Linked DNA regions of Homo sapiens: region 2 is linked to region 1. Evidence: fine-mapped QTL for protein levels in blood plasma. Region 1 holds a variant in brackets. A gene starts in the other region. All regions are shown on their reverse strands.

The links. PIP is the posterior inclusion probability: the model's chance that the variant is causal. Protein levels are from antibody-based Olink assays in UK Biobank. Linkage for the fine-mapping came from a reference panel and not from the study's own genotypes, which makes the PIPs less certain.
Region 2: H2AP starts here. The variant in region 1 is fine-mapped to the plasma level of the H2AP protein (UK Biobank, PIP above 0.99).

The regions. Positions count from the first base shown.
Region 1 is chr14:105,991,655-105,996,049 of GRCh38, reverse strand. It overlaps IGH. Among named protein-coding and RNA genes, the nearest start is that of FAM30A, 76 kb to the right of the region's middle. The variant G/A (reference allele first, on the strand shown) is at 2,361.
Region 2 is chrX:37,990,608-37,995,002 of GRCh38, reverse strand. It overlaps H2AP (H2A.P histone), which reads right to left and starts at 4,224. Exons shown (of 1, transcript NM_012274.2): 1 at 3,689-4,224. The coding sequence starts at 4,163. The coding sequence ends at 3,810. It overlaps H2AL3 (H2A.L variant histone 3), which reads right to left and starts at 731. Exons shown (of 1, transcript NM_001395555.1): 1 at 99-731. The coding sequence starts at 659. The coding sequence ends at 213. It also overlaps a transcript of SYTL5 not described here.

The sequences.
Region 1 (4,395 bases):
GACCACATTTTTTATTTGGATAGATTCATGTTTCGGATGTATATCATATGGCTACTCACCCTGGCGGAAAATTTGCCAAAGCACCTACTGAAGGATGAATGCACTAGCAATAAATTTTCTCAGAATCGATTTGTCTTACAGGGTATTCATTTGACTTTCGCTTTAAATGAAATTTTTAATATATATAGAATTCCAGTTTGACTTTAATTTGTAATTTATTTTCTTGTACTCATGTATTCATTATTTTCTTCCTGAAGATGGTAACACATTCCATTCTGCTGGGCCTTCATTATAGATATTTGTGTGTATCTATTCAGGGCTATATTTGCAATTTATGGATGCCACAATTATCAGAGTTGAAGTCAGCTTCTGCTGTCCACAGAGATTTCAAGTTCCTCCCATGATACTTGCTTTTGTGTCCCTGTTTGATCCTGGGTCTTTATATTTAGTTTTCCCCAGGGAGGCTGTCTGTTTCAGCTGTGGAAAGTGCACCCTACTGACAGTTTAAATTGATGACTGTGTGGTGAAGGAGGTTGGACAAAGCGGGACTTCCTCCAACCTTCTGACTGAGTCTCCTTCTTATGCAGGAGTAGTAAGCATAGTTCTGGGGAGTGGCCTTCCACATTGTCCTGTCCTTAACTCTTTCCCCAGGGCTGGAACGTCTTTTCCCAGACACAACTGTTTTTCACCAGTGTCCCCAGCTTTTTACCCACTATCCTTACCCTAAAGAGTAAGGATTTCTTTCCTGAGGAAAGAGATAGGAGGTGTTTCTGGATCAAGTTTCCTTGGTGTCGTCTGTTTCCTTTTGTTTCTGTTGACTTCACCACAGCTCATATGACACATGCTTTGGTGGATTTCCCCTGGAGGTAGTGGAGGTGCATTCAGGCATTCCACAGGAGCTGCTGTTCTTTTCCCCAGTCAACACCACAAGACACCAGATGAGGAAGTTGTCCGTGGATTTTTCAAGTTCTCTAGGAAAAGCTTGCAAGCACTAGGCCAATCTAACACCATTAGTACATGCATACTAAAAAAAAAAAAGTCATTAAGTATTTCTAGGTTAGTCTGTTTCTATCTCAAATGCCATCCAGTGGCACCTGCCCTATGTACACTAGCAGGTAGGTCCTGGTTCTCTCTGCAGGCTCCTATCTTCTCAGATTTCAGTTTTCTTGTTTGCTTGGTGAAATCAACTCAGATATGTTGAATGTTTTTTCTCTCTTTTATTTGTAGCTGTTCAGCTTCGTTGTTAATGAGGTCAGAATAAAATCACAGTTTTCTCATTTTTTTCACATTCCCACACTGAATAGCTGCTTTCCGTATAAAAGCCAGAAACTGAGAGAACACATTGAATATCCATTACAGGTGAATGTTAAACAATTTGAGATATGTTTGTGTACTGGAATAAAATGCTGCATTACAATCAAGTCATCACTCATTCACATAAAACATGGCCACATTCTCAAATAATGTAGGGACCTGAGTGCCCCTCCATCTACTGGCCTCTCCTGGGGCCCTAGCCTGGCCACACCTTCTTGCAGGGCAGTCTTGGACGCCCTGGGATCCCGCACCAAAATTTCTGCCCTGGCAGAACATGCCTGACTGGTGGAGAGCTCCAATCGGGCAGCCCTCATGTGCACACACCAGCTTACACACTTCCTCCGAATACTGTAGGTTCACCCAGGCCCACGTAACTTCCCACATCACTTTGCAGTCACATGTCTGTATAGGTGGGTTTTGCTTTTCTTGTCCCACCATTGCGTGGAGTGCAGTCCCCTCCCCCCACCCCAACCACCATGGCAGAGGAAGCTTTGGTGGGGAAAAAGCCAGGGCCGCTCCTGTCAGCGTCCCGCACTTGCGCTAATTCTGCACAGAGAATAGCAGATCATCTCACACATTCAGAAATCACTCCTGCTTGTGGGGCATGAATACGGCACCCGGGCCTGTGCCCACAAGTGTCCCATCCCTGAGCCAACACCTCCTCCAGTGTGACCTTGAACACAGTCACCAACAGGGCCCCACACACCCACAGACGCAATGCCTCTGCCACTGTGGCGAACACCTGCAGGGAGGCAGGCACCCAGACACCCACTAGCACTCTGCCACAGCTGCCACACCTCCAACAGCCCAGGACAGTGGATTCCTAACCTTAAGGAGCCGGAGAACCAAGTCAGGGACTAGTATAACTTCCCCCAGAGTCAGAGCACACAGTCTAGGTGTTGGGAGCTGAGCACTGGCCACCTAAATTTTTCCAGAAATGAAGCCAGTTGGCTGAATCCACCTTATACCACAATCAAACCCTCAAGGTCATCCAATAGGGTAAAAGAAAATAAAAATGTATCCAAAGGTCAGCAACTTCAAAGATT[G/A]AAGGTGGATAAGCCCACAAAGATGAGAAAGAACCAGTGCAAAAGTCCTGAAAACAAAAAGGGCGCCCTCTTTCCTCCAAACAACCACAGCACCTCTTCAACAGCAGTTCTGAATGGGGCTGAGATGGCTGAAATGACAGAAACAGAACTCAGAATATGGAGAGTGAAAATGTAGATGAATACAGCTATTTATGGAGAATACTATAAATGTTCCTCAAAAAATAAAGAAACAAAATCTACTGTAGAATCCAGCAGTCTCACTGCTGGCTATGTATCCAAAGGAAATGAAATCAACATGTCAAAGAGATATCTGCACTCCATGTTCACGTTCATTGCAGCATTATTTAAAATAGTAAAGATATGGAAACATCCTAAATTCCCATGAATGGATGAATGAATAAAGAAAATGCATACAGACACAACAGAGTAATGTTCATCCTTAAATAAGAAGGAAACCCTGCCTCTGTGACAGCATGCATGAATCTAGAGGACCTTATGCCAAGTGAAACAAGCCAGGAACAGAGGAAGAGTCATTCATGATTTCACTGTATATATTAAAGCAGTAGACTTGCAGAGGTAGAGTAGAATGTTGGTTACCAGGGCCTAGAGGGGTGGACTGGGAAAGGGAGATGTGGGTTAAAGTGCACAACGTTCCAGTTAGACAGGAGGTATAAGTTATGCCTTTCTAATGCACAGCATGTCAACTATAGCTGATAAGGTAGTATATATTTCAAAATTACTAAAAAAATAAACATTAGAATTTCCCCACTAAGAAATGATAAATTTGTGAGGTGATGAATATAAGCGGCTTGAGTTACCCAGTTCATAATGTATACATGTATCATAACTAAACAACATATGTCATAAATATATGCAAAAATTATTTGTAATTTATAATAAAATAAGTTTCATATTTAAATAATTACATTAAGAAAATGAACAGAAACTTTCAGATTTCAAGAATATTTTATATATATATATATATATCTTAAAACAAACTTGCAACAGAATATAGAAATAAGTTTTACGACTCAATGGAAAAGAACAGAATTCAATAAAAACTGGCTAAAAGAAACAACAGCTGCATCATTATAGAAAATTCTGGAATAATCAGCCATATAAAGATTCTCACTCTCTTAGAACTAGAATTCCGTAGGACTTGTAATTCCTCCTGACCTGGGTGGGAGGCAAAAGGAAGAACAGCTAATGGTGATTCAGTGAGTTTTATACCTGTGTGTACTTCTGGGCTCACTCAGCAGAAAGAAAAGAAGAAAAGAAAGAAAGAGAGAAAGAAAGAAACAGAAAGAAAGAAAGAAAGAAAGAAAGAAAGAAAGAAAGAAAGAAAGAAAGAAAGAGAAAGAAAGAAGAAGGAAGAAGGAAGGAAAGAAAAGAAAGAAAGAAAGAGAGAGAGGGAGAGAGGGAAGGAAGGGACAGCAGAAGTCATTGTGGTGTGTGTGAAAACACAATCCTTGGGCTCCCCCACATCCATCTCTACTCCAGTCCCATCAATGTCCAGCAAATACATTTTCTAAGATGAAGTATTTTAAACTTTCTAAATCCTGCTAGAAAACCCCTCAGCTCTTTCAGTTTTGCTCTATCACTTGAATTATTGAATTAAATCTAGTTTTTGTGGGCCTATCAATACCATAAGCCAAAATAACACATGAAGAAATTGCACTGAGACACATGAAAACCTTCTGAAAGCTCCATAATTTCAGATCTGCATTCTTATTTCCCCGAACCTAAATCACTGAATAGAGACTCAGAACGAGTTGATCTTGTTCCTGAACGTGCACAGAGCCAAGGACATCCTGTCTGTCTGGAACAGCTCAGGTTTGTTCCTGTTTCTCCTAGAGGATATAAAATCTTGAGTTAGGGAAAAACAGCCAGGGACACCCTGGGCTTTGTTCTTCTCTCCCCTGGAGGCAGGATGTCCTTCAGAGCTTTGTCCCAGTGGGTAACACAGCTGCTGAGGTGTACAACCCACGTGGCCTCGTTTTGGTCACTTTTGCATGGTGAGCCTGCTTTGCACCAT
Region 2 (4,395 bases), not on the chromosome of region 1:
CCCCCGCTTCAGCTCTCTGGGGATAGCTTCTCCTTGATGTCTCACAGACACCTCCAACCCAAAGCAACGGAAACGGAGACGAGTCAGGAGCACTGTCATGCATTTACACAGTTTAATAGCTTGGGCAGATGGAAGCAACCTGGGGTCTTTCATCTATGGGAATTTTGGCATCTGGAGGAGGTTGCTGATGAAGTCCCGCATGGCTCCGAAACTCAGGAATCCTTCCTCCTCCTTCTTCTCCTCCTCCTCCTCCTTCCCCCCATCACCACCAGCACCACCATCTCCTCCTCCTTCTCCTCCTCCTCCTCCTCTTCCTCCTCAGATTGGGGCATTTCTTCTACTTGAGAGTGGGTGTCATCTTCCAACTCCAAGATCCATCTGAGCTGCTCATCCTTTTGCAGTGCCCTCTTCACGTGTTCTGGGGTGATGCACAGCCTGCAGCTGTTCTTGACCTCCTTGCCCACCTTTTCCAGGATGTTGGCTGTCAGATACTCGAGAACACCAGCCAGGAAAACAGGTGTGGTTGAGCTCAGGTGCCGGGCATGCTGACTTTCTCGCAGGCAGCGTTCCAAGTGGCTGACAGGAAACTGCAGCTCTGCTCTTCTGGAATGGGAAAGGCGTTGTCTCCTAGGCCTACAGAACATTTTGTTTCCAGCCATGAGGAATTGCTGGGTTTTGCCCCAATTGGCACAGCTTGATTTTCCTGCTGGCCTGAGCCTCTCAAGGTACCAGTGCTTATTGCCACCCACTGTATCCCTATGCTCCAGCCCCTCATTGGTCAGGGAGTTGCCTTTGTGACAACCTCCACTTTTTGATGTCATTGGTGTCCACTGGGCTCTGATCAGGCCTCAGCCTAGAAAAGCCCATGAGAGGAACCTGATCACCCTAGCAACTGGAACTTCCTTTTGAGAGGGACCTGGTTGCCCCAGTAACCGGAGCTTCTTTTTGAAAGGAACCTGGTCACCCTAGTAACTGGAGCTTCTTTTTGAGAGGAACCTGGTCACCCTAGCAACTGGAACTTCTTTTTGAGAGGAACCTGGTTGCCCTAGTAACTGGAACTTCTTTTTGAGAGGAACCTGGTCACCCCAGTAACTGGAACTTCTTTTTGAGAGGAACCTGGTTGCCCTAGTAGCTGGAACTTATTTTTAAGGAAAAGCTCATTTTCTATTTAACATTTTAGCAAAAAATTGTGTCAATGAAAGTATTGTCCTGTCTTTAGGACACCACTCCAGGTTCTTTAAGTTTAGCCTTGCATTGTCTGTGAGCTAATTTACATTCCCTCTAGAAGCTGTAAGTCACTTACAGACATGTTCACTGCCTTGCTCCCAATTTTGCCTCCATGTATACATTTACTTAAACATTCATGATCAATGTTCCTATGTTTATTCTTTGAATTCCCTTTTGAATGGCTTATAATATCCGCCAATTTCCTCACGAGTTAATCGATTGTTTCAACGCATTTCCATATCATAGGTGTTTGAGTGTTATGATTTTACTCTGTTAGAAAATACCTTTTACCTGTTTTTAAAGGTCACAATGTTATACCCAGTGGATTCATCTATCAGAGCTAGGCAAACTTGGTGACAGAGATGTGTGCTTCATGCTTGGTTAAACCCAGGAATGTCTTTGCTTGCCTCATCTAGGTGACTCCAAAGCCCAAATAAGTCTTTGTTCATTGTGTTTTTCTAATTTTAGTTTCAACATTTAATTTTTATTTCAATATTTTTCTCTACTAATTCTGTATTTTGTTGTTGTTGTTGTTGTTCATTGACATTAGGTAAGTTATTTTCATTGTTGACCAAATGGTTGGGAATTCAGTTTTAGGATCCAACCATCTGGAGAGCTGTGTAAATGAGTTAATGATTCATAGAAATACAGTCTCTGTTGTGTAAAAGACAACAGAAAATCTGGTTTGACAGTCTTTTGTCCATTTGTCTATTTATAGCTCAAATCAATTAAGAATTTTATACTCTCTTAGAGGAGAACAGTTTTTTTTTTTATATTTGGATCAGAGAACTTTACTGTTTCTATTTACACTTGACTCACGGTTGAAATTGTAGAACTGAAGCTATAAGCTCTATCTCTCTGTGCCTATATGTCTATGTGCTTGTAATTCTGAAATAGCTCCACCTCTGATTGTGTGATTATGTAAAGTTTTCCTACCTCTGGATGGTATTGACGTGTTCGATTATAAAGTCTCTTTTGCTTACATAAATTAAATATTCCCAAATTCCTCCTGTCTCTCCACAGGGCTCAGCAGGATGTGGTTCTCACAGCCAGTGGCCTAAGTCCCCAGTGGTCACCTGAGAACCAGGACCACTGCACCTTGGGGAAGCCTGCCTACAGGTCTGCTGTTAGGGAAGGAAGGAGATGCAACTGTTTATTAAGGGGGACCCTGTGCATGCACTGTGTGGAACAGCAGTTTACAGGCACAAGTGGACTCAATCTTGGGAAAACCCACAGATGGAGAGACTTTTACTACCCCCATTTTACACATGAGGAGGACTGCTCAGAGGGAGTAATTGAAGGTCTAATATCACATGTCCAGGAAGTGGTGAACTGGGATCTGAAACCCAGGCCCGCAGCTCCCATTGTTGGAGCCGGCTGTGCAGCCTCTGACCAACCCTCTGTGAAAGGCCAGCAGGCAGCAGACTGTGGCTCCCAAGGACCCAAGGAAGAGGTGGAAACCTAAAATGTGGGCACTCACAGGCAAGGGGACAGATTGCTACAACACTTGATGTGACACCTCTTTTAAACTTAGCACAGAGCAGGAAGTTTTGAAAAGGATTGCATGTGCTTTAGAGGCCGCCACTTGGGACAGAATTATTTCTATACCTCTTAAAACATGGATTGAGTCACTAATAATCCTTTGGTGCTCTATGCAATATATGGTAATTATAATGAATAAGTATTCAATTTAAAAATGAAATTGTTAATCGTGTTTTAAATGAAATACATTTATAATTAAGCTGATTCATTAATAATTAACAACCATTAAGAACTTCTTGAATTGCCCATCTTAGGCCAGATCATAAATTTTATATATTCTTTTGATTTATTTTACCAGTGTCCTGAAGAGAGGACAAAAAGATATATTCACAGCACTAGCTAATAATCCCTGTCTCAAATCCGCTTTCATAATAAGGCAGGGCATAAAGAAATAAGAAATGAAATCCAGCAGGCCATCATTTCTTTTTTGCATTTTTCATGATGGTTTCTCCTTCACTCTTCAATCTCCATGTAAAGCCCCTGTCCCATGAACTTCATGCCAGCCAGTGTGCCCCTCTCCACCCACCCCTGTGGCCACCGCCCTCTGACTTCAGACCTTTGCTATCCTGAATAAAGCCTCCTGCACCTCAGTCAGAGTCTGCAGCTCCACCTCAGGCCCCAGCATCAGGCTGGGAATTCAACAAGCCTCAGAGGCCCCCAGCCAACTCCCTGGCCTCACAAGGCCTTCCTGTTCAGAGACAATGAGGAAGTCTCGGTGTCTTTATCCCAGCCAGTTCCTCCCCACAGGGCCGGCGCCCTCACTGTCACCATTGGAAACTGCCCCCTCTAAATCACTGATTCAAACACCACACTGGCCACCCCTTCCCCGCCTTCAGCTCTCTGGGGATAGCTTCCCCTGGATGTCTTACAGACACCTACAACCCAAAGCGACAGAAACTGAGAGGAGTCAGAAACATACTCATGGATTTACATCCTTTAATAGCACTTGTTGATGACAACAGCAGATATTCCTCAGCTGTGACACATTTTTGCCCTGGCTAAGCCTGTGAGGTTCCCTTCAAGGCTCTGGGACCCAGTCTTCAGTCATTCTTCCTGGATTTGGGCATCTCATCAAACAAAAAGCGAGTCACATCACTCTCAGCGCTGTGGGGCTCACGGTTGTTGTCCACTTCTCTCTCCCTATCTTGTGAAGTGTTGCGCATACTGCCATTGTTGCTGGCCTCCAAGCCTACCCGCTCCATGATGTAGTCAGCAAGGCAATCGAGCAAGGTAAGGAGGGTATTTATTGTGGAGGAACTCTGGCTTTGGACGTCTCGTTCATCTTGCACAACGCGGTCCACGAAGCTCCTAGGGACCTGTAGCTCATTTCTAGAAGGGTCTTGAGTCTGGTTGTTATTTGTAGACGAGTTCTTACAGTTCTTTTTCTCTGACATGATGTTTGCTGGGTTTGGCTCTCATCAGCTCTGCTTGATTCTCTAGCTCAAGTAGGTCTCTGAGGACACTAGTGCTTAGTCCTGCCTATTGTATCCCTCTGCTCCAGGCCCTTATTGGTCAGGGAGCTAGCTGCCTTTGTGACATCCCTAGACTTTGTGATTTCATTGGTGTCCACTGGTCCCTTATCAGACCTCAGCCTAGAAATGTCTATGACACTGATCTAGTCACGCT